Linked DNA regions of Homo sapiens. The protein of the gene in region 2 interacts with the protein of the main gene of each other region in a pairwise test. Each region holds a gene or a part of one and is shown on either strand. Other genes may lie near its edges.

Region 1 (8,851 bases), on a different chromosome or scaffold from region 2:
CTGTGCAGCACCTGGGTTCTGTGAGGCACGCGAGTTGGGAGAAGGGCGCAGGTTAGGCGAGGGGCGCAGGTTCTGCCAGTCAGGTGGAATTGGCCAATCAGCGGGGATCCAGTCAGGTGGTAGTGGCCAGTCAGTGGGAAGTGGCCAATCAGGTGGCAGTGGCCAGTCGGGTGGTAGCGGCCAGTCAGGAGGACCTTGCCAGTCTGGAGGACCCTGCCAGCCCGGTGGGGTCTGCCATCCAGGTGGAGTCTGCCATCCAGGTGGATTCTGCCAGGCCAGTGGATTCGGCCAGACAACAGGGCCGGGCCAGACAATGGGGTTTGGCCAGATCACTGGGTTCTGCCAGATTACTGGGTTTGGCCAAATCACTGGGTTCTGCCAAGCGACTGGGTTCTGCCAGGCTGGTGGGGTCTGCCTAGCTGGAGGGCTCTGACGTGCTGGTGGGGTCTGCCTGGCTGTCTGGTTTTGCCAGCCTGAGGGGTTCTGCCAAGCCAATGGCGTCTGCCAGAGCACATTGGGGGGTGCGCCAGGTGGGTTCTGAGTGGTCACTGGAACTGGTGCAGACCTCCAGGTCCCTGCAGCCAGTGGGGCCCGCCTCTGATCCCCACTGCTGTTCTCTTCAACATTCAAGTTATTAATCTGCATCATCAGAGAGAAGTTCAGAATCACCAGTGGGTTCTGTGTCCTCACCTTATCTATTCCAGGAATGCCCTCTAAACCCTCACCTGTAGTGACAGCCTGACCCACTAGCCATTGGTCACCCTGAGTCCTGGGTTTGTCTTTCACTGTCTTCCAGGCAGGAGTTTCATCTCCGAGCCAGGCCAGGAGCAACCCAAAGATGGGGCCTGAGGCTTCTCCTCTTCCTATGTCCACCACTGGTTCTGCCTGTACCACCCTGAACAAATCACTCAAGTCACTTCACCTCTCTGGCACTTAATTTCCTTCTTTGTAAAATTGGCACTATGATCCCTACCTGGTAGGAGGTGCCTTTAAGGTTTAATGAGACAACCTGTGTGAATGTGCCTAGCTCAAGGCTTAACACATGGTGGTTACTAACATAACAAAATGTAAACTGAATTACATACAGGTTGTATATATTATTTGTGTCCATGTATTATCTCCCCATCAGTTTGTGAACATCCGGAGGACAGGAATAAACATTCTCTTCAAATGCCCTATAGCCTAGCTGAATACAGTTACATACATTGTTTTGTTTAGAACAAATGAACACCCTCAGAGAAGAAAGGAGACAGCCCCAAAGCAAAATGAAGTTAGCAGAGATCTCACCTTGCGGGTCCTCTTGCCCCGAATTATTGTCCGGGACTCCAGATTCTGAGCCTGGGAACCATCTGCTGATGTCTGTGCAGTTGCACCGTCAGGTTCAGAGATACCTGGGTCGGTCTCTATGTCAGCCTGGGAAGTGGCCATTTTGGCCTGATTTACATTCTGGGTCTGGGTATCAGCTGTTGGGGCCTTAGTGGTATCATTCCAAGCCTTGAAAGGGGTCTTAGGCCTGCTGTTGGCCAGGTCATTGGCATTGAGAGACTGAGAGAAATTGTAGGTGGCATTTGGGCCCACTTTAGTAGTGGCATTCTGGGCCTTGAAGGCCATCTCAGACTTGTTAGCAGCTAACTCACCAGTGGTTGCTGCCTGGGAAAAATCATAGGCAGCATTTGGACCCTTTGGGGTAGCATTTTGGGACTTAAAGGCTGCCTTGGGCTGCGTGTTGGGCACATCCTTGGCATTATGAGCCTGAGAGAAATCATAGACACCATTTGGGCCTTTTGTGGTGGCATTCTGGACTTTAAAGGCTGACTTAGGCCTAGCGGCAGCTGCTGAAACCTGAATGTCAGCCATCTCATTGGCAGTTGGGGGCTGTGAACTCTGGGGACTAGCAGCTGCGGTGGCCTGGTTAGTAGGTGGAGCCTCTGAGATCTGGATGGCCTCCATCAAGGTCTGCATAAGCAAGGCGCTGTCTTCTACGGAGGCCTCAGCCTGCAAACACAGGGGGGAAAAAATTAAATCTCTGGGCCTCTGAGGCAGGAGGTGGGGTGGGAATAGGGAGCCCGGGTGGCAGCGCAGCAGCGGAGCTGCAGGCGGGCGGTGGGTGCAAAAACAGGGGGGCTGAGGCAGAGATCTAGGGGGCCCGCGAGGGGCGATGGGGGACCAGGCGGGTACTAAACATGTGGCAGGGGTGAAGTAGGGCAAGGGCAAAATGAGGGGTGGGGCGGTATGCGGAAAGTGGGCACGAACAGGAGCCGGGGACGCTCCAAGAGGCGTGCAGTAGCAGCTCAGGACGGCAGGCGGATCGCGGAGTTGAGAATAAGGGGGGTCGCACAGAGTGGGGAATGCAGAAAGAGGGAGGGTGGAGGCAGGAGGCTGGGGGAGGGGGTGACAGACTGCTCTACAAGCGTCAGGATTCTGGAAAAAAAAAAAAATGGTTCCTTACCCACCCCGCATTCTCTGGGCAGATTGCCCTGACTACTAACAGGGTCTCCCCTCTCTCTGAGCAGGGACTGATGGCTGAAAAGAGACGCCCCTCCCCCCCTTCGATAAACGATGGGAATTCGAAAAGCCCACGGAGTCTAGTCACTAAATAGGGTCAAACCGGATCCCGGCGTTTGGGAGACCAAAGAGGCCCGCGGGGAGGGGTGACTGTCGGCTGGGGAAATGGTGGGGTGGGGAGTGGAGATCTCACCTGGAAGCCGAGGAGGCCCGCACCACAGTCCATTTTCTGAGCCATGGCTCCTGTCCCTCTGGCAAGAGCGGAGCCTGGGGGCTGTGGGAGAGGGGCAGGGCGTTATACTACAGAGGGCAAATACGAAGGACCTAATTGGGAGGGGGGTGACTGTGGTCTGACTGTGCGGGCGGATAAGGTGAATGTGAGGAGGAACGGATCGGAGCGGTAAAAGTGAATGGGCGTCCAGATGGAGGTTCTGAACCCCGAGAAGCTACTGACAGGGCGAAGCTTCAAATGGGGATCGGGAAGCAGATGAGTTCTGAATTCGGAGCGGGGGTGCGGTTGGGTTGGGATTCGCATTTGGGAAGTTGCATGGAGGTTTTGAGTCAGGAGGAATCATCTAACAGTACAGATCGAGGTCAAGGAATCTGAGGATTTCGAACGATGGGAGGGATCGGACAGGGGTTTTGAATCAGGAAGGATCGGGAGGGGCATTGAATTGGGGTTTGGGGGGTGGAAGGGGATTCAGAATCCAGGGTGAAGGGATCGGGATAAAAAAAAATGGGGGCCCGCACCAGGGGGCAGATGCCCAGTCTGGGGGCTAATTCTCACCTTGCCTCAGGCCCCAACCCCAACCCCCTCGCTGCCTCCCTTCTTCACGACTCAGAGGATCGGGATTGCTGGGCTCGGCTCTCAGCAGCCGCACTCTCTCCTTGTCCAGGAGAAAATGCCAGCGCGGCAGCTTGGGCGACCCCGCCTCTTCGCCTAATATACCACCCACCGCCTCAGGACGTTACGCGCATGCGCAAACACTGAAGAGCCAAAGTCAGTCCCGCCTGCTTTCCCAACAAAAGCTTCGTCCTGGAGACCATGATGCGCATGTGCGCTGGAAGGCGGTCCCGCCCCCTTTGCCAACACACCACCCCACCACCAACCAGGTCGACACTATACAACAGCACCTCCCCTTCCTCTACGCCCCCTCCCCCACAGATGCGCTGTGCCTCTTGGTCCCACCCCTTGCCCCACACACCGGCCCCCTACCTTTTCCGCAATGCGTCTCTATTCCGTCCCTCCCCTATTCAAGGCCCCTCCTGTCAGGCCGGCTTGCATCTCCACCCCCTTGTCCAGCATGCTTAGGTCTCTGTTTGGGGTCTCTAATTGCAACAAGTGTTAGACCTCTGCTGAGGAAACGGAATGGCCTGAGAGGATACACTATTGGAGCTAACAAAGTAGTAGTAGTAAGTCTGTGGCTGCCACGTGACTCCATGATTTCTCCCTCACCCCCTGCCCGCCCCCACAAGCTCCCAGACGCAGAAAGAACGTTAGTTTCTTCCCTTTCTTTCTGCAGCTCCGGTGATGGACTCATTTTGTGTGTGTTGGGGGAGGAAAGGAGGGAAGGGCACAGCTTGTACATCACAGCAGGATTTGTGCTGGGGCTTGTCTTCCTGTCACAGCAGCCCTGGGAAGTGGATGTCAGCACCCCTATTTTGCAGATCAGGAAGCTGAGGCACAGATACATTGCATGAACTAGACAAGGCCACAGAGCCAGGAAACAAAATGCAAAATTTGGGTCTGGGTCTTCCTGACTCCAAAGCCCACATTCTGCTCATGCTGGCCTGGGGACTAAGGGTACCCCTCCCTCCTCCATTTGAGCAACAGACCACGGCACCCCATTTGTACCAAACAAGCAAAGTTTGTGTTCTAGGAGGCCCAAGCTCATGCTCTGCATTCAGGAGGACACAAGCAGAGGCCCCCACCCTCCCCCTGCCCTGTGTGGGTCCATCCAGGCGTGGGAATTGCTCCTTGGGGTCCACTCTGTGCTCAGAACATCAGGCCTCTTCCTTATCAGGGATACAATCACACTGTCCCTGAGGCCTTCCTGGTGCCCACTGGAGCAGCCAGGACAATCAGACCTGTGTGTCTGAGCCATGGCAAGCCCTGGTTCCTTTCAGGGCTGGGGCCTGGGGCAGCTGTGGTTTTATGGAGAGAAACTGGGCTGGGCTTCAGAATTCCAGGAATGGAGTGCCCAGCCTGTCTGTCTCGAGCTGTGTGAGCCCGCACGGGTCACTCAATTCTCTGGGCCTGGTTTCTCAATGTGCAAAGTGGAATGCACAGCAAGTGGGTCCTACCCAAGGACACACACGCTGCTATGCTTCCAGGATAACTGGAGAAACTCAAAAAGGCAGAAAATTAAATACAGATGTGAGGTGACTCAAATTAAACTGGTACAGTTCCAAAATTCAAGACAGATCTTTGTGCAGTTCACATTTGTTCTGGCATCAACTCATGCCAGAAGCCTGAACATGAAAGGAAGCTAATGCTAGGAAGGACTGCAGCATTTGGTCCCCAAGGGCCAACATCAGTTCTGCCTGGCTGGATGACTTTCCTCATCTGTTGCATAGCAACCTCCTCTGTCAGCTGCCTGTTTTTCCTCAGCACTTCCTCTGTAAAGTGTCTGCAGTGAGACGTGATCAGACTCAGGAAAGGAGGTCAGAAACACCATTTTCTATGCTATCTGTTTCCATATCTGTATCTTCGGTCATGACTTGGCCTATGAATTCTAGATCCATAGTAACTACCTACCTCACTTCTCCAAATGGATATCTCTCAGTATTCTCTAAATTAACAGGTCCCAAACCGATTCCTTCATACGCCTCCTCCTTCCCACCAACACAGTGTTTCTCCTCTAGTTATGCCTTTCTCCCCCATTTAGAGTGTAAACCTCTTAGGGAGACAGATTTTTGTTTTATTCATTGTTGTTTCCCCAGCACCTAGAACCATGCCTGGCACATTTTTATATCCTCAATAAATATTTGTTAAATGAATGAATCGCACTCTCCATCCCATTGCTAAAGCAAGAAACCTGAGAGGCAATTTTTCCTGTGATCAATTCACTTATTTTTCCTCATTATACAAATAATGCACACTCATCACTATACATTCAAACACTGCCTAAATATTTTAGAAATTAAATAAACATCACTAAATCTCATCACCTTGGACAATTGCTTAGATTTGGTGCTACCTTTTCATACTTTACACACATATATGTTGTTACATAAATGATGTGTTATATATGCCAGACCTTAAATTGCATTCTTTTCCTTACTGCTTCCCACTTCCTTTCAATTCTACCTTCACCTGCCAAACACTTGTTTTTAACACCATTTGATATCCTTCCATACTCAAAAGTTGTTTTTTATTTTTACAAATTTAAGATTACATGAACTTTTATGTGTCTGAATTATCTTATTTGACAACAGTCTACCTGTGATTCGTTCTTTTAAATGACTGCATAATATTCCATGGTAAGAATGTACCACAATGTATTTAACCATTCCCCCATGGATGGAATCCATTTTAGTTTCAGGATTTTTGTGGGGAGCGTGGCAATACAACAACATTGCAATAAAAATACTTGTACATGTATTCTTATACTTTAATAATTAATGTTTGTCTTTATTTCCGTGACACCAGAAGCCCAGGAGTAAGACTGACATACTCTACAAGACTTTTCCTTTTTTTTTTTTTTTTTGCCAATCTTATGTGTATTTATTGGTATCTCCTTATGGTTTTAATTTATATTTCTGATAAGCAATGTGGTAGAACACATTTTTATACATTAATGAACATATTAGATTTATTTTGTAATATGCTTGTATATTTTACCTGTTTTTCATTTGGGTTGTCTGTCTTACTGACTTTTAGGAGTTCTTTATATAGCGTTATAGATCCTTACTGAAAACCCTTGGGGCCAGATGTATTTCGATTTTTAACATTTTAGTAAGGTCATATATATTCTTACTTAACAGTTCCAAGTGCAAAAGCCACAAAGGCCAGATATTCACTTCTTCACATGCCCTTGGCAGCTAAGAGAATGTGATCTAGGATTTACCAGTGTGGCAAGCTCCTGAAGACCATCCTCAGATTCAATGATTTGCTAGAAGGATTCGGAGAACTCAGAAAAAGTGTTATGGCTATTGTTTATTACAGTGAAAGGATACAGATTAAAATCAGCAAAAGTAAAAAGTGCATAGGGAAAAATTCAGGAGAGACCAGGCACGACTTTTCAGTTGTACTCTCCCAATGGAGTTGTATGGCCAGTGCTTAATTCCCCCAACAATGATGTGTGAAAACATGTATGAAATACTGTCAACCAGGGAAGTTCACCCAAGCCTTGGTGCCCAGAGTTGTTTTTGGGGTTCAGTCAGATAGGCATGGAGCACCTGTGTGGTTGACCTTAGTTATTCAGTCTCTAGTCCATGCAGAGGTTAAACTAGTATCTCTCAGCCCAAGGCTCACACCACAAATCACACTGTTAGCACAAACTATCCAGTGTGGGCCAAGGCCACAGTAAACAAAGACACTCTGATCAGGCAGGATACTTCCAAGGGCTTACAGATTATCTCCCAAGAGCTGGTCAAGAGCCAAAGCATTCTTTGCAAAAGACCTTTTTTTGGAAAGCATAGGGTTTGAACATTGCAGACCTGCTGAGTACAACCCTTTCACTGCAGTTACAACTTAGACCTAACACTTTGTTTCAAAGGAGTGATTCAAATATGCAGTGATGGAATTCACCACCATAGTTGTGGTGGTGGGAGCAGCAGCCACAAGAAAATCCAGTTTCTAGGGGCAGCATTAGTGGCAGGGCTAACATCCGGTGTCCACTGTTCAGTAGCGGCAGCAATGGTATCCAACCAGCTAATACATATGGCTTTTTTTTTTTTTTTTTTTTTTTTTGAGACAGAGTCTCACTCTTTCACTCAGGCTGGAGTGCAGTGGCATGATCTCAGCTCACTACAACCTCCACCTCCCAGGTTCAAGTGATTCTCCTGCTAGAGCCTCCCGAGTAACTGGGATTACAGGCACCCACCACCACGCCCGGATAATTTTTCTATTTTCAGGAGAGATGGGGTTTCACCATGTTGGCCAGGCTGGTGTAGAACTCCTGACCTCAGGTGATCCACCCACCTCAGCCTCCCAAAGTGTTAGGATTACAGGCATGAGCCACCATGCCCGGCCCTATGACATGATTTTTGAAATATAACTGATGCCCTACTGCTTTTAGGTAATATTTTATTAATTCTGCTTTTAAAAAACTTTTTAAACTTTTTATTTTGAAATAATTACAGATACACAGGGAATTGCGAGGATAGTACAGTGAGGTTCTATGTACCCTTTATCTGCTTCCCCAATGGTTACATCTGTGTAACTGCAGTACAAAATCAAAACCAAGACACTGACATTGGTACAATATGTGTATATAGTTCTATATCACCTTATCACATGTGGAAGTCTCTACAAACACCACAGCAATCAAGACACAGAACTATTTCATCACCACAAAGATTTCCCTCTTACTACCCCATTATAGTCACAACCAACCCTCCTCCACCGCCCCCATCCCTAACCCCTGGCAGCCACTAATGTGTTCTCCATCTCTATAATTTTATCATTTCAAGAGGTCATGAAAATGTAATCATACAATATGTCACATTTTGAGATTGGCTTTTTTCACACTCAGCATAATGCCTGTGAGATGCATCCCAGTTGTCTTGTGTATCAGAGTTTCTTGTTTTATTGTTGAGTACTATTACATGGTATAGAGGTGCTACAACAGTTGGTTTAACCATTCACCCACTGAAAGACATCTGGGTCATTTCCAGTTTTGGGCTACTGTGAATGAAGCTGCTACACACATTTGTGTACAAGTATCTGTGTGAACCTAAGTTCCCAATTCTCTGGGATAAGTACCCAAGAGTGCAATTGTTGGGGTATATAGTAAGTGCATGTTAGTTTTACAAGAAATTACCAAACTTTCCTAGAGTGATCATACCATTTGACATTCCCACCAGCTATGTGTGAAGGATACAGTTTCTCCAAATCCTTGCTAGCATCTGCTGGTGTCAGTATATTTTGGCCATAGGTGTGTAGTAATATCTTACTGTGGTTTTAATTTGCATTTCCCTAATGGCTAATGATGTTGAACATCTTTACATGTGCTTTTCTGCCATCCATATATCCTCTTTGATTAAATGCCTCTTCATGCCTTTTACCTATTTTTTAATTAAAAAAATTTTGTGGGTACATAGTAGGTATATATATTCATGGGGTACATGAGACGTTTTGATACAGGAATGCAATGTAAAATAAGCACATCACTGAGAATCC
Region 2 (8,768 bases):
TTGGGTCATAGGTTTCAATCAGACTAACATCATCCTCCTAAGGATGTTTACAGCATAAGAGGAAATAACCTTGCAAGAGTTAACTTTGCAAACCAAACCTATCGAGTGCCAATAAATACCATTCTACAATTAACAAGTTTTCTCCAACTGTAATAATAAAAACACTCCAAAAACTTCAATAGGAATCCTAACAAGTTCAACCCTCTGAATTTCATCTTCTACTTCTCTAAATGCAGTCAATTAAAAAGTCAATTGCTATTGAGCAAAATTTTCTGACGTGCAGACCAAAAAAATTGATTTCAATTGCTATTGAAATTTCAATTGCTATTGAGCAAAATTTTCTGACGTGCAGACCAAAAAAAAAAGCAAATCTACATAAGAAATATCTTCTTCTAGGGAATGTAAAAAATGTAAAGTTCAAAGCTGAAGTTGATGCCATAATCGGAACAATTATCAAAGGTCAGCAGAGTTAGAAGCAACCTAAGAAATTATCCAGATCACTACTCTCTTTTACATAAGAAAGCCAAGGCATACCAAAAGCATGCCTATTAGGCTGAGAATAAATTTCAAATTTATGGAGCAGATATAGGCAAAATTAGATCAATACTGGTACCAGAATACGTTTTAAAACATGCAAACTAAGCTTAATAAATCTAAGTACTTACATTAAGAAGTAATTCATCTTTTGTTTTAAGAGGAAAATTCTTATTTTCCTTCTCAATTTGTAAATCATCATCTCCATCTGACAGCACTGGAGGAAGTGATATACAAGAGGAAGAAGACGACGATGAGGAAGATGAAGAGGAAGACGATGAACTTGAACTATCTGAATCTGTTTCACTGTAGGGAAGAAAACAGTTAAAAAAATAGTCCAGTATTATTATACTAATATTAAAATAAGATTATTCAATTAAGAAATATCAACTTTAATACAAGTTTACTATTGCTTATTCTAATATTAAAATAAGATTATGCAATTAAGAAATATCAACTTTACTACATGTTTACTACTGCTGTTCTAATTCAAAACTAGCACTTCAAAACTGATATGGTATTGGGAAAGTAGTATTTAGTTTACCAATAACATTTTCAAACCTTTGCCATAACCCAGATCCTCTTATTACAATACTCTCACATATCATACACCTGTCTGAATATAAGCAAGCATGTGACAAACCACTAAAAAAAGGGAATTCTGGGCATGGCACCTCTCTTAGTCACAACCACCAGATCGCTTAATTGCCAGATTGCTTAATGAGTTTCTTCTCAGGCTACAGACAACTTGGGAAATCCTCAGTTACGAAAGTATGTAGACCATTCTACTTTCTGAAAACTCACTTGGTCCTTATCTTCCACAGAAATTATCGTTAACAGCAACCACTGTCTCAGTTTAAATTTTGTTTGTTGGCTCCCCACTTGAAGCCCTTTTATATACTATTTTTAAGGGTTCCATCCTCACTTTCTCTTCTTTCGCTACTACTTTCATGGATAATCCCATACACATTAATGATTTCAGTCATCATCCATGTGAATTAACGCCTAAATCTTCAGCTATGACATCTCTAAACTCCATGTCCAATCTCTGACGGCATACTGGCCACCTTTGTACGAATGGCCTATACACCCACACTCATAGCAAGTTAAAACAAGAAAAAGTGCATTATACTAACTAAACCTGCTTCTTCAGTTTCCATTTGATTTCACTGCTGTTAACTGGCAAAAAGTTGTACCCCTTTTGACTTCTTCAAATATTTGGTATCCTCTGCCATCACCCACAGAGTCAGAAGTAGTATCCTGACACTAAGTTGGCCTATTATGACGCCATATCCCTTCTGCTTTCAAAACGTATCCCCAAATCATCTACCATTTACTTTTCTTTGCTAGTAAAATGAGCTCTGAAATCCCACAAGATGATTATACTGCAATCTTAGTACTGCCAAGAAATCCAACCTTGTTTACAGTTGTTACTTCCCCCTCCCAGTACATTTCATACCCTCTCCTTCTACTCAAATCCTTCAGCCTTCTTCACTTCCACTCTCCGCTGATGACTTCCCTGAAAACTAAACTTCTCACCTCCTCAACACGTGTCTATCTTGTTAACCTGTTCAGTACCCCACTCAACACACTCAACTATTTGTAGACAATGTTCAGTGTGGTTTAGTAACATCCCACATGCTGGAGTCCTCTCCAGCCCAGAGATTTCATATTTAAAAGACAGGTGTGGGGGCAAGGGGGAAAGGCTCTCACAAAACGTAAGAAGCATAAGATACTACTAAATAACACTGTTTGGCTACTTTCATAAACACGTGTTCCCTGCAAGGATTCTATAAATTAACGTAATCATCAAGAGCCAGCTTTGAAACACAAAAAATAATACTTTTCCTGATCCCCAATGTATGTGGTTCAAAAAACAAAGCCTAGATGTGATGATAAAAAAAAATCAGATCTGACACAAAACTCAACTATAACCACAAAAGTACAGCCTAAACTGAGTAGTTACGGAAATAACCTAAGATCCTCGGGTTTTCTAAAGTCTAACAAAAAATGATACGATCTATACATAGAACCCTTCAGGCCACCAAATTTAGGAAATAAGTCAGTACTAAGCTCAGATTCACAACGCGACCTGCTTTGAGAGGCAGCGAATAAGGGGCAGTCGGAGCCAATACTTCAACACGTGAGCCCGGAGCACCAACGACCTGCCCACCCTCCAGGGCCCACACAAGCAACCTCTAGGCTCCTAGGCCCCAGCCACCCCCGCCCGTCATACAAGACCTCTCCCCACAGCTCCGGGTCCCTTAGGCACCCGACCTGTCCGAGTCCGAATCCGAGTCCGAGGTCTCCAAGGAGTCCGGCGCCCGCGCAGGCTCTGCGGCTCCTGGGGAGGTGACGCAGTCTCCGCAGGCCGGCGATTCAGCCGGTGGCTGTGGCTGCGGCGCCGGGGTCCCGGCCGCGACGGCGTTCAGAACGGGCTGCAGAGGCTGCTCCCCGGCAGGCTTAACCTCCACGGTCTGCCCAGCGTCCGGGGACCCCTCAAACGACTGTAGCGGCGGCTGTGTCCCTGGCACAGGGGCAGAGCCCGGAGACGGAGCCGCCGGACCTTCCCCAACTCCAAAGTCGGTGCCATTGAATTTCAGAGTTTCCAGCTGAGCGGCGGCGGCCTCCACTACCTCCATCGCACCGCGCCAGAAACCGGGTCGGCCTCAGGATTGGGGCCCCTGGACAAGCTCACGGCTCTCTCCAGAAATAGAAAAACAACTTAGGCAACCGCAGCAACACTGCCTGGGCCCAACTTCCCGCGTTTCTCAGGTAACTACACGCGGAGGAGCCAAAAGACACGCCCCCGCCATTTACGCAGCAACGCTTTCCGAAGAGCGTGTGACGTATGTGGCGCGACGGCGCGACGGCGCTCGCGGGGGCAGGATACATGCGTCATATCTTCGAAAATCAGGATTAGGGGGTCGGGCGCCGTGGCTCACGCTCGTAATCCCAGCACTTTGGGAGACCGAGGTGGGCGGATCACAAGGTCAGGAGTTCACAGACCAGCCTGCCCAACATGGTGAAACCCCATCTCTACTAAAAATACAAAAATTAGCTGGGCATGGTGGCGCGTGCCTGTAATTCCCACTACTTGGGAGGCTGAGGCAGGAGAATCGCTTGAACCCAGCAGGCGGAAGTTGGAGTGAGCCGAGACCGCGCCACTGCACTCCAGCCTGGCGAGAAAGCGAGACTCCGTCTCAAAAAAAAATAATCAGGACTAGGGAGGCCCTAAATCGACCGTTTTCACTGCGTCATGTGAACCATTCAAGGCCTGAATGTCGGATTTTCCTATTGCTGCATGTGAACCAATTCTGCTTGAAGCGCCAAAATGAAGCAGGGATTATACAACAGGGGGGTGCCTGAAGAATGCTAAGTTCTGTACATCAGAAACTTGAGCCAGGAAGTCTTGACAAGACGCTAGTAACTTCATGAAAGTTAAATGAAGTTTATCCATCAATAGATCCATCTGTCGATAGATAGGGTATTAACCATTTTTTCAAAAATGTAACTACAACTATTCCATTTTCCTTTCTCCAAAGTACCCTCAAAGAGAGCAGTAATGGACAAAATTTTGCTGTGTTGTTCATGTTATGGTGATGTCTATATCATACTTAGCACTGTTTCGTAGTAGAGAGATGAGACTATGAGACTGAAATGTACTCACTTATTGTTGGAAACCACTAGTCTAAATTGTGGAGAAAGCAAGCAGAGTTCTTAGGACTGAGGAAGAGATCAGAATTTTCTGGTTTCCTATTAGGTCTTCAGTTTGAGGCATCAGTCCCTGTGTAGTAATAATAATCATTGATACCATTTGTTAAACATGCATATGTGCCAAGGACTGTGCTAAAGATTTTATAAATTATTCACTGAGAATTTAGTGTGTCATCTACAACAGTAGATCTTCATAGAAATGCAAGGCAAGTGTAATAAGAGTAAGGTTTTAAGAAGCTTACAATCTACTTGAAGTAGAGAAGGGCAATGCACAGGAGATAACTAGAAAAATATTTGAAATATGAAATAGAAAATCCAAGTGCAGCAGAAATGGGAAGTAGGATTGGTAGGCTATTTCATGGAAATCCTCCAAAGTGAAGAAGGACTTTAAACTTGGGATACGAACTTACTAGCACAATGATTAAGCAGAGCTCAGAGTTTTCAACTAAAAAGACCTGTGTTCAGGCCTCAGCTCTACCATTTTGTGTTTGGTGTTACTGACTTTGGGCAGTTAATCTAAATCCTAATTTCCTTATCTGTAAAATGGAGATAAAAATACTATCTCATTTAGTTCATGTGAGCACTAAGTAAGGCTTTATATAAGGGAGTGGCATGTCATACATTCAGTGTGCAAAAATACTTGGAAAATGGAACAATGCATGAACTCACGAATAAAATATTTAATTAACAATGATCTTGCAAAGACATGCAGTACAGATTTGAGAAGGGAAGACGTTTGAGCCAGAATTATTCCCCAGCCAGCCACTTTGTTGCATTTTTCCAGGAATTAGGTGATAAAAGTCTGAACTAGGCTTACAGTCAATGAAATAGAGTAAAGGACATCCCCAGCATCAGGGGAAGAATAAAAGTACTCTAAAATTTCTGGTCAAGGAAATTAGAAAGAAGTTGGTATTACCAATAAAAACGGAGAAGTTGGCCAGTCGCAGGGCCTCACGCCTGTAATTCCAGCATTTTGGGAGGCTGAGGTAGGCAGATCACCTGAGGCCGGGAGTTTGAGACCAGCCTGGCCAACATGACGAAAACCCATCTCTTCTAAAAATACAAAAACTTAGCTGGGCATGGTGGTGGGCACCTGTAATCCCAGCTACTTGGGAGGCTGAGGCAGGAGAATCGCTTGAACTCAGGAGGCAAAGGCTGCAGTGAGCCAAGATTGCACCATTGCACTCCAGCCTAGGCAACAAGAGGGAAACTCCCTCTCAAATTAATTAATTAATTAATTAAACGGAGAAGTTGGAAAGAGATGTGGGTATGTGAAGTTGAGTCTGAAGAAAAACTAGACAATTAAAAATGTAAATAGGCATTTAAAAATAAGAAACTGGAATTTGACAGAAAGGTTAAGACCAGAAGCCTAAGTTATGGGATAATTGAAATACTCATTTGTTCATTCAGTAATCATTTTCTTAACATTACGATATGCTGTGCACTGCATTATAAACTATGCATACAGGAAGATAAACACAGTCCCTACCCTTATGGAGTTAACAGTTCAGTAGAACAGACAAGTTGAAAACAAGCAGAAGGTACTATAGTAGAGAAATGTACCATGTAAATGCAAGAATGTATGAAATGGGAAAACTAAAGACAGAGAAGATACTTGGAAAATTAAGGAAAATGTACTATAAGAGATATATCGTGGCTATAAGAGTAATTATAGCCATAAGGCTCACTCAAGTGTCTTGAGGGGCTGACACTAAATGTATTTATCAATATAATACTAACTGGCCCTGGAGATTTCCACCCCTGGCCCAGTGATTTCCAGGAGACCAGGCCACTTCAGCACAGATGCAACTTTCATGAACCTTAAAGCTTACCCTTGTAAGAATAGCTTCGACTCCATTTATGAGAGAAACATCTGATAACTGACCAAGCTGAATACAGGTTTTAAAAAGGGGGAAGAAACCCCCAACACTGAGAACAGTCTCTGGTTGGAGGCTCTCTTGATCATCCGAGCCCTGACTATCTGGTCTATACCCCCAGCCTCTTCCCACTATCTTTTAAGAGCGATGCCAGAATAAACTACTAAAGCATGAGACAGTCTCTAAGACTCATCTTTGACTTGAATAGAACTGAATGGGAGAAGTCACCTCTAGGAAAGCTGGTTAAACAGGACCACCCAACCACTGCCTCACTGACAATGACAAAAGGCTTTACAATGCGTGTGATACTTGAGCTGGACTTTTAAAGAGAACCATGAATTTGTTAATCTGAGAAAACAGGAGACCTTCACAGGGGATAATAAATAAGATCATTGTAATTTCCTGCTTAATTATTTATAAACTCTAAATATTTGTAAGCACACTTAGAATAAAATTCAGACTCCCTGCTTTGGCTTTCAACAGTCTACCTGATCTGGCCACTACTTACCTCTCCAGTTTCTATCTCCTACCGTCTTCCCCACCCTTGTTTCACATGAGCACTGGTCTTGATCTCCCTTCAACTCACCAAGTTAATTCTTCACGTGTGACATTTTCACTTTTCTGTTCTCTCTTCTCTTCATATTAACGTGGCCTTTTTACTCATTTATGGTTCTACTCAAACACTACACCTAAGAGAGAGCTTTCCAGACCACCCAATCTAAGTGCACCCCTCAATACCAATCACTTCCTAGCTTATAGCTCACTGTTTTTATTTAAATAGTATTTATCTTCACATGAAATTATATTTATTTACTTCTTTATTGTCTGTTTTTTCATAAAATTAAGTCTCAGGTGCCCAGGATCTTTGTCTAATTCACAGCTGTTTCTCTAAGTGCCTGGAAACAGAATAAATCCTATAAGGATTTTTGAATGGATGAATGAAAGAAAGAAAGAATAAAGCTCAATGGGACAATCAGAGTAAGGAATATGACTTAACAGATAATATCTGTTATTCTTTCAATTTAAATTAATCTGATGATATCTAAGAAAGGCTACTGTTTTTAAATAAAAGTCTTTTGTTTGTGTGGTGGAAATGTTTCTGTGTTTCAACATAATGATAGTGGTACCTATGCCTAGCTTTGAAGTAGGTCAGTGTTTCACAAATGGTAATTTTTCTAAGTGCTTGTTTCAGAATGTCCTGAATTTACCTACTTCCACAGCCTTCCTCTCAACCGCATTATTTCTAACAGTTGCTAAACTTAGCCTGAAGTCTTTAACCTAAGACTAAATCCAAAAAAACACCTTGGAAGACTGTGTAGCTTACAGGGTCACTATTAACGTTATGAGAGAATTTACCTTGAATTAAATTACAATTTAAATGGCATATTACATTTCAAAGGGAGCACGTAAAACTTAAATTATTTCTATAAATGTCACTGATTGATCTTAGTCTATTTCAATGTTTAAAAATACATGAATAGACACATTTACATTTCCAGAAACCTACAATGCACTTGCTAGATAAAAATGATGAGATTTTCTAATATATATCACAAAATGATTAAAAGCAGGTTATGTGACTGTTTGGGTGAGTTGCTATTCCTATTTATATATTGTAGCACTAATTTAAGTCAAGGTCATATGTTTGCATTGCCAACTAGTGTAGTAGGGAAAAGAGAGGTATAAGTGCTATTTTAACTCAAAATGGACTGAAACTCTACTGGACTCATTTGAGAGTATGGACAGAAATTATAGATTAGAGACTAGGCATCTCTTGCCACCTAGTCTCCTCTCACACTCAGCTTGTAAGAGAGTGACTTATCAGATAAGAGAGTGACATCTGACTGGTGATCTTGGGAAAAGGAACTGAGCATACTTGGTCCAGTATCTTTGTGTTATAGGAGATAGAAATTATTTAGGTAGAGAGTTAGGGTGAGTCCCAGGCAGAAAACTTTCCTTCTAACAAAAAGCAGCTCAGAAATAGCTCCCTTTTTAACCTCAATCAGTTCAAAGAAATCACTTCCTTTCTAACAAAGAGCAGCCTGGACGCTCAGGCTGTAAAACACATATAAGCAACTAAGGCACAGAGTGGGGAGTTTCCTGGGTAATCACCAAACTTCACATACATACAATGGGTCCCAGTAAAAACAGTGGGCCTTCATAAGCATATCTCTTTCTCTTTCTTTAGGCATACTAAGACAGGGAAGCTGGAAGTAGGCACAGGTGAGATACCTGCAGCTGCAAGAAGGTGCCTGGGAATAGGCACAGACACTCTTCCCTCCCTTTTAGCACACACAAACAGCACAGAGCAGCATAAACTAAGAGTGTACCCACATGATCAAAGAATGGGGTGGGGGCTGATAGAGACCCTGCTCTATGCAGATAGCACACCTGGTCCTAACCATTTGTTCGGGCCCTAGGAAGATAAGTCACACCCTCCTTACTAGCCCATTTATAAAAAACTGACATTTTTTACTACAACTTGGCAACCTGTTTGGGACCCCTCTCCGTGACCGAGAGCTGTTCTTTTCTTTTGCCGAATAAACTCCTGCTCCAGTCTCACTCTCTGTGGTTATGTGTTCATGTTCTTGATTTCCTCAGCTGTGAGACCAAGAACCTTGGTATTTACCCCAGACGATG
Region 3 (8,636 bases), on a different chromosome or scaffold from region 2:
CTATAGAGCTTGTAAGAACTGGTAACAGGCAACTGAGAAATATCAAACATTTGCAAGGTACATGTTGAGGCATCTCAGTTGTCCCCTGTACAATCCTTCAACCCAAAAAAGCAAAAAATATTTTTAATGTCACCTGCCATCAAAATGTTCTTGGTAGCTTTCACAGTGAAAATGTAACACAGGACGAGGATCCTTTTTTTTTTTTTTTTTTTTTTTGGAGATGGAGTTTTGCTCTTGTTGTCCAGGCTGGAGTGCAATGGTGCCATCTCGGCTCACTGCAACCTCCGCCTCCTGGGTTCAAGAGATTCTCCTGTCTCAGCCTCCCGAGTAGCTGGGATTACAGGCACCACCACCATGACCAACTAATTTTTTTATTTTTAGTAGAGATGGGGTTTCATCATGTTGGCCAGGCTGGTCTCGAACTCTTGACCTCAGATGATCCGCCCCTCTTGGCCTCCCAAAGTGCTGTGATTACAAGCGTGAGCCACTGCGCCCGGCCAACTGTGTGTGTGTGTTTTTTTTGTTTTTTTTTTTTTGAGACGGAGTTTCGCTCTTGTTGCCCAGGCTGGAGTGCAATGGCGCGATCTCAGCTCGCTGCAACCTCTGCCTCCCGGGTTCGAGTGTTCTCCTGCCTCAGCCTCCCGAGCAGCTGGGATTACAGGCGCCTGCCACCACACCTGGCTAATTTTCGTACTTTTAGTAGAGAAGGGGTTTCACCATGTTGGCCAGGCTGGTCTCGAACTCCTGATCTCAGGTGATCTACTCACCTCGGCCTCCCAAAGTGCTGGGATTACAGGTGTGAGGCACTGCACTCGGCCTAAGGACAGGTAATTTTTATCAGCCATGAACTATGAAACATAAAAACAGAAACCAAGTGGTCCTAGGCTGCTGATACCTTCTCCCTTAAGTGAGCCAAGATAACAGATGAAAAAGTGAAAACAGAGTTACAGCAATGTCTAGTACCAAAAAATCCATGAACACAGGTGTGGAATCAAACCCTTGGCTAATAATGGTTTGAAAGCAAGATCTGGTTGTAAATTCAACAGGGCTATATAATCATCTTGCAATTTCACATACAACCTGTAGGAGCTTGTTAGGTTACCAGAAGGTTGAGAGGAACAAGGCCAACATGACAGCTTGCAATTTTCCCTCTGCAGTTAACTCATATCTGAATGCCGACTATTATGCCCTTTGCAAAAATGATCTCCCAACATTTTCTCATCTTCATGATGCTCACTTCACAATGCAAAGCTAGAAGTTCAGGGTGATTTTCTATCTAGAAAGAGCCCAAATCCTCAAAAAAAAAAAAAAATCATTAATAGTTCAACTAGGTTGAGGTGGAATAAGCCTTTTCCTAATTTTGTATTTCATGCAAATCAACTAATAGAAAAACTACTTCCAAATCTAAATTCTAGTTAAAAAAAAAATGACTGTAGACACTACATAGAACATTTTTATCTGACAGAAATAAAGAACAAATAGTGGGTAGTTATTATATGGCACTGCTTTAAGGTATCAAACGTCAGTCACAGATCTTACAGTGTTCAGGAAAACAAACTAGTACTAAAAAATAATGACCATTTATTAGATGTCCACAAGGGGTTACTGTAAAAAGAAACTTGTAAGTATGCCTGACCACTAGGTACGGTACTGAAGCTGCAACAGAAAACATGGCACAATGAAAGCATTTTAAGTTTTCCCAGATTTGTAACTAAAATGGCTTCCTGAGGAAGTGAATCTTCGAGCTAGGTATGAACGAAGAGCCTTAAAAAGTGGTCTGATGGTGAGAGGCTGTGTACGGCCTTTGGAATTGCAGAAACCCTACCTCCAACAGGCTAGAACAAGGTAAAGAGAAAGTGGCTCTTCAAGAAAAAAAACCCCAAAGAATGACGATTGGTTTTCTGAGCACTGACTTTCAGCCTGGTACCTTAGCCTTTCAGGTTAGTCCTAGGAAGCAGCAGGTGAGGAAGAGGCTCAGCAGAGCAGTTCCCCCACGGCCCTAGCCCTCCCTCCACGACTTCCTTTTCCACCAGGACTGAGTTCCAACTCCTAGAACTGCCCGCCCCGGCCAGAATGATGACGGAGAATGCCAAACACATAAGTGCTTTTTCATCGTTGTACTTCCACTTAAAAAATCCTGACAACTGAGTTCAAGACCAGCCTGGCCAAGATGGTGAAACCCTGTCTCTACTAAAAATACAAAAATTAGCCAGGCGTGGTGGCGGGCGCCTACAATACCAGCTACTCGGGAGGCTGAGGCAGACAATTGCCTGAACCCGGGAGACGGAGGTTGCAGTGAGCCGAGATCGCGCCACTGTACTCCAGCCTGGGCGACCAGAGCAAGACTCGCCTCAAAAAAAAAAAAGAAAAAAAAAAATCCTGACAACCACCAGACTGTCTCCTGGAGACCAGAGAAGTGAGTGACAGAAAGATGAAAAGGTACAAGAACGCGTTTAACTTAATATTCAGTTTGTACAATAAACAACAAAAACTAGTTAACTACAATTAAAAATGGTTGTCCATCACTCGAACAACGAGAAACGGTAGCTCTTACCTTCCTATTAATGGCCAAAAGGAAACCTAGCTGCGACTTCCAACCCCGGGCCCCCGCCTCTTTTTCAATTCCAACCTAAGTTTTCAGGAGTATGCTTAGGTGACGCGAGGCTTTATTCTGTTTTGAAAGGGATTCACTGAGAAAGCGAAAGGTCCACGCTCTGATATCCAGCCGGAGAGTAGTAACCGCGTCTCCGAGAGGCGCGGACCAGACCGCGAGTCCAGGCTCCGCAGCGTTCGGGCGCCCGTCTTCTCCTCCCAGCGAACACGCACCCGCTGGGGAGTCCGCGCCGCTCCGCGGGGAGCCGGGCACCAGCGCAGGCACCGGGAGGCCAACGAGGCGGCGGCCAGCGCCCTCCCGCCCCGGGCACGCTCTCCCGCAGGAAACAGCTGGCTCGGGACGCCACGGAGCGCCTCTGGGAGGAAGCGCTAGGCACGCGGTGTCCGCACCGGGCGCGCCCCCATCCCGGGCCCGTGAGGGAGGGGGAGCGGCCGGGGCCCCGCGTCCCGACGCCCGACGCACGGGGTCCCAACGCGCGGGCAGCGGTCAATGGCCGCGAACTTCACGACCCCAGCCCCGCGGGGCCTGGCTCAGGGTCCCAGCCCCCGAACCCCGCCACGCTCGGGCCGCGACCGTTACGGGGCCCTCACCGACCCAACGCCCATCCCGCTACGCGCCGCCCCCTCGCTTACCTTCTTAGGGTCCGGGTTCGCGGCCAGGCGCGCCTGCAGCTTCTCCACAACTTGGAGCGCCGACTCCGCCGCCATCGCTGTCACTGGCGCGGCCTCCTCGCCGGAACTGGGCTCGCGTCGCGTCCTCGGGCCGCAGCTCCGCCCTCCGTGCATCCCCGGCGGAGACGGAAGCGCGCCTGGCCCCTTCCGGGCCTCGGCTGGGGTGTGTGGGGGGCGGTGGGCTGCAGGCTCCGCCCCCAGGGCCCGCTCCCCAGCGCCCACCCGGCGGCCGCGCACTCCTCGCGCCCCTGGCCCAAGTGTGCGCGCTGGGGGCTGGGGGCTGCTCGGGCCGTACGCGCCTCCGCCGCCGGCACCCCCGCTCCCTGTGCTCGCGTGCTGAGCCCAAGCCTGGAAGACCTCTCCAGGGTCTACTTCAAGACGGAATGAGGCCACCGCGCCAGACCCTGGCCTTATAAATGCCAACGCTTTCTCCCGCCTGGGGCTTAGCCACACCCTAATCAACACCTTGTCAGGGGTCCCGGGCTGGTGCCCGTCCTAGGAGTCCGCAGGCACCCGCGGTAGCAGCCACCCTAGGCTGAGCACACGATGCGTCAGTAGTTAGACTATCTTTTCCAGCCTCAGTACAACCTGATGAAACGAGTTGTATGATCTTCATTTTACAGATGAGGAAACTGAGGTTCAGGGAGACCAAATTAACTTGCAGATGGCCGCAGGACAGGAAAGAACTGAAAATGGAACCTGAATCTAAGATGTCTAGGACCATTGTGAGCGCACATTTCTGAACAGGTCGAGGAATTGAGGCCCAGAGAAAGGGATTTTTCAAAATCCAAACAGCTTAGTTCCTTCCATGAGGCAATAATAGCCCATGTGTCTTGTTTTCCCCACAAACAGTGTCTGGCACATAGGCACTAAATAAATACTTATTGCATGAATGTATAGATAGATAGATGTTTCCTCTGATGACTTGCCAATGAGCCGTATGGCTTGATTAGAAGAGCCCAAGATATTATTCTTCAGGCCGTCTACTCTCATCCTAAAAGCACTAAGTTTTACCATTACTAATACTACTACTAAAAAGAGCAACTAAATAGTTGCAAACTCACTTAAAGTACCAGCACTGATTACATCTCATTTGATCACATCAAAGCAGAACCTAATCAGATCTTCAGCAGCAAATTGGCAATGCACCTAGCCTGATCTCTCCCTCAAAGCAGGAAAGCCCAGAGATTCTTCCAGATTCTAGCTCTGGAAGAAAGAAAAACATCTTAAACACAAGTTGTTTCTTCAAATGAGCATTCATTCACTCACTATGCTGAAAAGCCCTCTCTACCATGTCCCTACTCCTCCATTTGGCGCCCCTCCCCCAGTTCCCTAAGCAACTGACCACCTTTTCAGGGTGTAAATGGTCAGTTTATTTATCTGTCTTGCCACTGGGCTGTTTATTTATCAAGTACAGTAACCGACCTGTCCAACTTTGAATCTCTGCCACCTAGCATCATCTAGACCTTATAATCAGCATTGGATATAAAGTCCATACAAGACTAATGACCATCCACTTGGTACCCTAAGGCTCAACTGAGGGATGTTGTAGAAAAGGCATTGAACTGGGTGTGAGAAAACTTCGATTCTAGTCCCAGCAGTAGTGTCTCCCTCCTCTGCGTAGCAAATACTTTTACATTTTATATTCCTTCCATTTTGAAAATGTACCACTGGTGTAATGGAATACAGACTGATTCTTGAAGCAGAATTGCTGAGTAATTGGCCTGGCACATACTCGGGACACATGAAACATTCTGCAGATGTTATCCAGAGAGAGCTCAATAACCAAAATGAAAAGAAACAATGAGGTTGGGCACAGTGGCTCATGCCTGTAATCCCAGCACTTTGGGGGTCAAGACGGGAGGACTGCTTGAGCCCAGGAGTTTGAGACCAGCCTGGGTAACGTAGTAAGACCCAGCCTCTACAAAAAATACAAAAATTTTAAAATTAGCCAGGCATGGTGGTGCGTGCCTGTGGTCCCAGCTACTTGGGAGACTGAGTTAGGAGAACCATTTGAGCCCAGGAGATCAAGACTGCAGTGAGCCATGATCGCACCACTGCTCCAGCCTGGGCAACAGAAAAAACAAAACCAAAAAAAAACAGAAAGAAACAACGAATGCTTCTGGGGGATCCTGGAGTGGGTGTGCTGCTCCCAGACAGCCACCCCTATGTCAGACTGAGTCAGGCTTACCTGCAAAGTACTCTTACATTTGGATATATGACTTTTTTTTTTTTTTTTTTTTGAGACAGAGTCTCACTCTGTTACCCAGGCTGGAGTGCAATGGCGAGATCTGGGCTCACTGCAACCTCTGCCTCCCAGGTTCAAGCAATTCTTCTGCCTCAGCCTCCCGAGTAGCTGAGACTACAGGCATGCGCCACTACGCTCGGCTAATTTTTGTATTTCTAGTAGAGACGGGGTTTCACCATATTGGCCAGGCTGGTCTCGAACTGTTGACCTCAAGTGATCCACCCGCCTCAGCCTCCCAAAGTGCTGCGATTACAGGCATGAGCCACCACGCCTGGTCTGGATATATGACTTCTAGGATGAGCAGCTAATTATACATGTGTAATTCTCTGATTTTTTAAAAAAACTTTTCAACCACTTCTAAAATTGGTACTCTGTATGTATTCACTGGGGGATTACCATTGTAACCCTTGGTTTACACACGAGTGTTCAACACAGGAATGAGATCCCTAAGGTCAGAGGCTATTTACCCATCTTCAATCAGCAACATTTAGCACATAGGTGAGATTCAGTAAGTTTCTTGAAAACTGAAATAATTATTATTAAATTTAAATTATTAAATATAAGGCTAGCCTGACGTGTCATCTGAAAACCTAAGAGGGGCTCCTCAGCTCTCTTATCAGCACTACAGAGCCCTCTGCGAGAGTAACTAAAAGACCCATCCTATTCTGTTTGGGAGATGAATTCAAGGCTATACTAGGGGAGGAGGATGGGCAAGGAGGCTCTCATCTGCTCCGTACACTTTTTTGAATTTTTGCAGCAAGTATAGTCTACTCAGTATAGTCTCGTTCAGTCGCCCAGGCTGGAGTGGTGACGCGATCTCGGCTCACTGCAAGCTCTGCCTCCCGGGTTCATGCCGTTCTCCTGCCTCAGCCTCCTGAGTAGCTGGGACTACAGGCGCCCGCCACTACACCCGGCTAATTTTTTTTGTATTTTTAATAGAGATGGGGTTTCACCGTGTTAGCCAGGCTGGTCTCGATCTTCTGACCTCGTGATCCGCCCGTCTCGGCCTCCCAAAGTGCTGGGATTACAGGCATGAGCCACCGCACCCAGCCCTTACTTTATTTTTTTTTGAGACAGGGTCTCACTCTGTTGCCCGGGCTGGAGTGCCCTGACACATTCACGGCTCACTGTCAGTCTTGACCTCCTGGGCTCAAGTAATCCTGTTGCCTCAGCTTGGGACTACAGGTGTATGCCACCATGCCCAGCTAATTTTTTTATTTTTATTTTTTGTAGAGAAAAGGTCTCACTAGGTTGCCCACGCTGGTCTTGAACTCCTGGGCTCAAGTGATCCTCCCGCCTTAGCCTCCCAAAGTGTTGAGATTCCAGGCATGAGCAACTGCACCCAGTCTGGTCTATTTTTATAATGAAAATAACTTAAAGGTATTTTAATTTTGGAAAAGAGTAATCCTAGGCTGGCTAGCATTAGAGAGATTTAAAACACTGAAAGACAAGTTAAAAAAATTTTCAGGCCGGGCGCAGTGGCTCATGCCTGTAATCTCAGCACTTTGGGAGGCAGAGGTGGGTGGATCACCTGAGGTCCGGAGTTCGAGACCAGCCTGGCCAACATGGTGAAACCCCGTCTCTACTAAAAACATGAAAATTAGCCCAGCGTGGTGGCACCTGTCTGTAATCATAGGTACTCAGGAGGCAGAGGCAGGAGAATTGCTTGAACCCAGGAGGCAGAGGTTGCAGTGAGCCAAGATTGCGCCATTGCACTCCAGCCTGGGCAACAACTGTCTCAAAAAAAAAAAAAAAAAAAAAAATTGGCCGGGTGTGGTGGCGGGTGCCTGTAATCCCAGCTACTTGGGAGGCTGAGGCAGGAAAATCACTTGAACCCGGGAGGCGGAGGTTGCAGTGAGCTGAGACTGCGCCATTGCACTCCAGCCTGGGCAACAACTGTCTCAAAAAAAAAAAAAAAAATTGGCCGGGTGTGGTGGCGGGTGCCTGTAATCCCAGCTACTTGGGAGGCTGAGGCAGGAAAATCACTTGAACCTGGGAGATGGAGGTTGCAGTGAGCTAGACTGCACCATTGCACTCCAGCCAGAGCAACAAGAATGAAACTGTCTCAAAAAAAAAAAAAAAATCAACCATCTTGTCCTCATAGCAGAGAGGAGCCCTTTCATAAAACAGTCAAGTAAGATTCTGCGGGCCTGACAGTGTGCTAAGTGAGGCATGGTGGCTCAAGCGGGCTTCCTCCTTGGACCTCTTCTGCCGAGAGGTCTGCCACTCTATCTTAGCAAGTAGGCAGCATCTGAAGTTGCTTGGATGGTGGTGTAAAGAACAAAGCTTGGAGCTTAGTGACAACCTGGGCTCCAATCCCAATTCCACCAATGCTAGCCATGGCTCCTGATCAAGTTACTTAAACTTGCTGAAATTTTTTCCTCCTACTGTATAGATATCCTGAGGCTTATTAATATGTCAAGTAATTGGCATATAATAGGTCTTTTTGAAAAGGCAGCAATTATTGGGGAAAATGCATTGCCTTGGTAAAGAAAATATAATGTGCTGCTGTAAAGCAAGATATAAAATCCTCCATCTGGCAAGTTTTTTTTGTTTTTGTTTTTGTTTTTGTTTTTGTTTTTGTTTTGAGACAGAGTCTCGCTCTGTCAGCCAGGCTAGAGTGCATTGGCAGGATCTTGGCTCACTACAACCTCTGCCTCCCGGGCTCAAGCAATTCTCCTGCCTCAGCCTCCCCAGTAGCTGGGATTACAGGTGTGTGCCACCACGCCTGGCTAATTTTTGTATTTTTAGTAGAGACAGGGTTTCACCATGTTGGCCAGGCTAGTCTCGAACTCCTGACCTCAGGTGATCCGCCTGCCTCAACCTCCCAAAGTGCTGGGATTACAGGTGTGAGCCACTGTGCCTGGCCCATCTGGCCAGTTTTGTTCTGCACAGCTGTGGCCACTGTTCTCTTCCCCATGGGTTCATGTTTCTGAATTGACTACACTCATCTTTGTTTCACATCCTTCAACCAACATTCAGTTGGTTATTTACTTACGGATGGCATCTTTTTGGGTTTCACAAACTGAATTCACCCTCTTCAAATATAGTAATGGCATGTGGAGACTGCCAGCTCCAGGGTGTAGTGTTTGAGATTCAAAAT
Region 4 (3,520 bases), on a different chromosome or scaffold from region 2:
CACTTGAGGTCAGGAGTTTGAGACCAGCGTGGCCAACGCAGTGAAGCCGTCTCTACTAAAAGTACAGAAATGAACCAGGTGTTGTAGCAGGTGCCTGTAATCCCAGCTACTCAGGAGGCTGAGACAGGAGAATCACTTGAACCCGGGAGGTGGAGGTTGCAGTGAGCAGACACTGCCACTGCACTCCAGCCCGGGTGACAGAGGGAGACCCTGTCTCAAAAAATAAATAAAAGAGCTGAGGAATCTATCTTGGCAACCTAGATTCTATGAGTTTTCAGTATTTCTCCACATAGAACATTGGAGAAACTAAAGGTCATCCTCAACGTATACAAATTGCTATACCAGAACCTTTTCTTCAAGCCAAACTTTAGAGCAAGTTAGGAGAATCAATAGTTCCCTCATTTCTAAGTTTAGGTCCGAAATTCCAAAATTTGTAAGAGGTTGGAGTAAAATGATGAAAAGTTGAACATCTGGAATGGAATTCATGAAATGATCAAGTCTTAGGCTTGTACTCCTGCCTTTATTTCAAAGCGTCATCAAAGGAAACAGAGCAGCAGCAGCACCTAGCTGAATTCTAGATGGGATATAAATAAAATATATATAGAAGAAATCTAAAAACAAGCTAAGTAAAGAATCCTTGCAGTGAGGTGTAATGCAACTTCATCACTTTATTCAAATCTTCAAAATAGTCTTTATTCTACATTTTTAGTATAAAAATTCCACAAGTTAAGTGCACCACAGTGTAGAGAGAGACATACAACGCTGAACTTCCATAACAGTCAATGGTACAGTCAAACATCACATGTACAGAACACACAATTTAGATGAACTGAAATTATAAGATAAAATAAAATAAAATCCAATTTCAGAAAACAAAAATCAAAACATTAAGGATCCCTGAAATATTCTTAAACCCTAATGAGATTTCACTGGACTCAAGTCATTTTGTAGTGAGACATTCACAATATGACCCTATTAACCCAGTCTAGGAATTCTGGGGAGCCGAATGAGTGGCCGCATCAGACACTCTGACAAAAAATGGTAACCAGTTTTTGATCTGAAAACTCCTCTTAATTTAGCTCTGAACACATCAATCAAGCTTTTGAAATGCATCCTCCTCCTTGCCCCTCATATTTTAAACCAACTGTTGTTCACAGTACAGTTTGCACGACATCTTTGTTCAAACATAGCTCAGTTTTTCTGGCACCAAAGCAAATTTGGGTTAGGTTCGTGTATGCAGAGACAACCTATGAGGAGGGCCCATAAGGCACCCTCCACTTTTGCCTGAGGAGATACGAAAGCAGAAGTAATGGCATCTGTACTTGGGGCACAGAGAGGGTTTCAGAGGATCCTTGTGAAACACTAGTTAAAAGATGACGAGTGGGGAGAAGTGCGAGGAAAGAAGGAAATTAGTCTGACTGGCTTTCTGTCCTGCACCATTGATTCAATGGAGACTGGCGGGAGGAAATGGAAGACTAGGGTTGGAGATGGGATGGGTGGGGCAAGGGATGGAAAGGAAAAGGCAGACAACTAATGCGTTCCATTTATAACAAGTAATATATATCAAAGACTTAAAGGAGATTAAAGACCAATCAGAATAATTTGGCAACTTTAATTCTTAGGAAGATCAAAGTTCCCTCCAAACCTAATTTGATGTTTTATTACTAAAAGCAAAGACCAGTATGGTACAGTATTACTCCAGAGAAATTAAAGGAAAATCCTTAGGGCGGCTTCACCCACATTCATTTTATGAATGGATACCTCCCCTACCTCAAAATGCTTTAGGGAGGTACTGCTACCATTACATGGTTCCTTATTAAATTTGAAAAGTGCCTGAAAGTTTGGGCACCAGAAAGACACCCCAACAACATGTGTCTAAACTGCAACTTCAGGTTAATATGACTAAAGCAGTTACATTGTGAGAAGTGCTGAAGGTATGTGATGTCTTTCCCGGCACAGAGGTGGCCTTGGTTCCTCACCAGATGGTGTAGCCACCATCTGAACCACCCATGAAGAAGTTCCCCTTCCGCTGAGTTACGAGGACGTTGGCTCCCTGCATGACTGCAAGCTGAGCAGCATTGGGAGGGCATCCAGGAGGTGGAGGCTGAAAGGAAATGACATGATAGAATGGGCACAGGGCAGCTAATATAAGCGAAGGGGACATAGGGGAAGCAGAGGCCTGTTAGGATGAGGCAATGTGCTAACCAGCTGCGTTTTAAGGAGCTAGTTCCGCCACCAATTTGAGTTCTAAAGTAGGTCTATACTTTATGTGAACCCAAAGATACAAACAGGAAAGGGAGCCTACCACTCATTCAAAGGGTTCCAGCTCTAAGATGAAGCCTATGGCTACCTTCTGAACATGAACAGACCAGACCAACAGTCATTTTGAGGGTAGAGAACCACTGTCCTACTCACATTCCCAAAACAGGGACAGGGTGCCAGTCCATGTATGAATCCCACATGGTCCCTACATAGTTTTTAATTTTTAATTTTTTTTTTTTTTAATTTTTTTGAGATAGAGTCTTGCTCTTGTCGCCCAGGCTGGAGTGCAGTGGTGGGATCTCAGCTCACTGCAACCTCCACCTCCCAGGTTCAAGTGATTCTCCTGTCTTAGCCTCCCAAGTAGCTGGGATTACAGACGCCTGCCACCATGCCCGGCTAATTTTTGTATTTATAGTAGAGTCGGGGTTTCACCATGTTGGCCAGCCTGGTCTCAAACTCCTGACCTCAGGTGAGCCACCGTGCTTCGCCCTTACACAGTTTTTGAATGAACTACTGGAAAACTGAAGGCTCGCTAATGACACATTCACTTCATCTCTAGCATGTAGTTACTGAGCAGTCATTTGAGCTCTAAATCCCACGCACTGGGGAATTAAGTAGGAAAAAATGATAACTAAAATTGTTAATATCTTTCTAAAAGCTACTTACTAGGGATTATACATTCTACTTTTTTAATTATCAGGGTTCCTAGTGCAACACCATGCTGATGGCAAATATTAAGTAAATGGTAAATGCTTATGGAATGAATAAGGAGCATTACTAGACCAGTTCAGTGTACCACAATGAACTGGAAAAGCAGCAAGCAGGACTCGACAGACATGAAAACAAAAGAATCTGGTTAACTCAGCCCCCAGTGAGATGCTACTCACTTGCCACAGTTCTGCCCCCTCAAACACTTTCTGCCTGAGTATTGGATGTCAGTAGTTGTACCAACACTGGCAACTATCATCCAGAAATGGTAAGAGAATGAATATGAAGTCATTTCAGAAAGTTAAAATACACAAGGGCTGAGTTTCTTCTGATGAGGTCATACTCACAGGAATGTTGCCAGCAGTAGCCCCAGCTCCAAATCTGGCACCTGCATCATACCCTCCTTCCACCAGCACTGTGGAGCCAGGTGGATAGATGGGACCGACTGGATAATAAGCCATGGGGATTGTGGAACCTAAAGGCCCAACAGCCACAGACTGGGCCATGGGAAGATACAGAGAGGCTCCAGGAAATGCGGCTGACATGGTGG

What was found.
Region 1: the proteins of NAF1 (region 2) and MAGED1 interact in binary tests that used the Homo sapiens proteins (3 or more experiments, as listed by UniProt).
Region 3: the proteins of NAF1 (region 2) and ELOA interact in binary tests that used the Homo sapiens proteins (3 or more experiments, as listed by UniProt).
Region 4: the proteins of NAF1 (region 2) and DAZAP2 interact in binary tests that used the Homo sapiens proteins (3 or more experiments, as listed by UniProt).

What each region holds. Positions count from the first base shown.
Region 1 is NC_000023.11:51,888,197-51,897,047, reverse strand, and holds the start of MAGED1 (melanoma-associated antigen D1), read right to left. Parts: upstream 3,426-8,851; 5' UTR 3,293-3,425; intron 2,780-3,292; 5' UTR 2,744-2,779; coding exon 2,699-2,743; intron 2,422-2,698; coding exon of another isoform or gene 2,254-2,421; intron 1,996-2,253; coding exon 1,288-1,995; intron 640-1,287; coding exon 1-639. UniProt on the Homo sapiens protein: Involved in the apoptotic response after nerve growth factor (NGF) binding in neuronal cells. Inhibits cell cycle progression, and facilitates NGFR-mediated apoptosis. May act as a regulator of the function of DLX family members.
Region 2 is NC_000004.12:163,163,552-163,172,319, forward strand, and holds the start of NAF1 (H/ACA ribonucleoprotein complex non-core subunit NAF1), read right to left. Parts: upstream 3,340-8,768; 5' UTR 3,177-3,339; coding exon 2,812-3,176; intron 2,732-2,811; exon of another isoform or gene 1,671-2,731; intron 841-1,670; coding exon 666-840; intron 1-665. UniProt on the Homo sapiens protein: RNA-binding protein required for the maturation of box H/ACA snoRNPs complex and ribosome biogenesis.
Region 3 is NC_000001.11:23,738,189-23,746,824, reverse strand, and holds the start of ELOA (elongin-A), read right to left. Parts: upstream 3,355-8,636; 5' UTR 3,322-3,354; coding exon 3,247-3,321; intron 1-3,246. UniProt on the Homo sapiens protein: SIII, also known as elongin, is a general transcription elongation factor that increases the RNA polymerase II transcription elongation past template-encoded arresting sites.
Region 4 is NC_000012.12:51,240,914-51,244,433, reverse strand, and holds the end of DAZAP2 (DAZ-associated protein 2), read right to left. Parts: coding exon 3,318-3,520; intron 2,105-3,317; coding exon 1,976-2,104; coding exon of another isoform or gene 1,782-1,975; 3' UTR 501-1,781; downstream 1-500. UniProt on the Homo sapiens protein: In unstressed cells, promotes SIAH1-mediated polyubiquitination and degradation of the serine/threonine-protein kinase HIPK2, probably by acting as a loading factor that potentiates complex formation between HIPK2 and ubiquitin ligase SIAH1.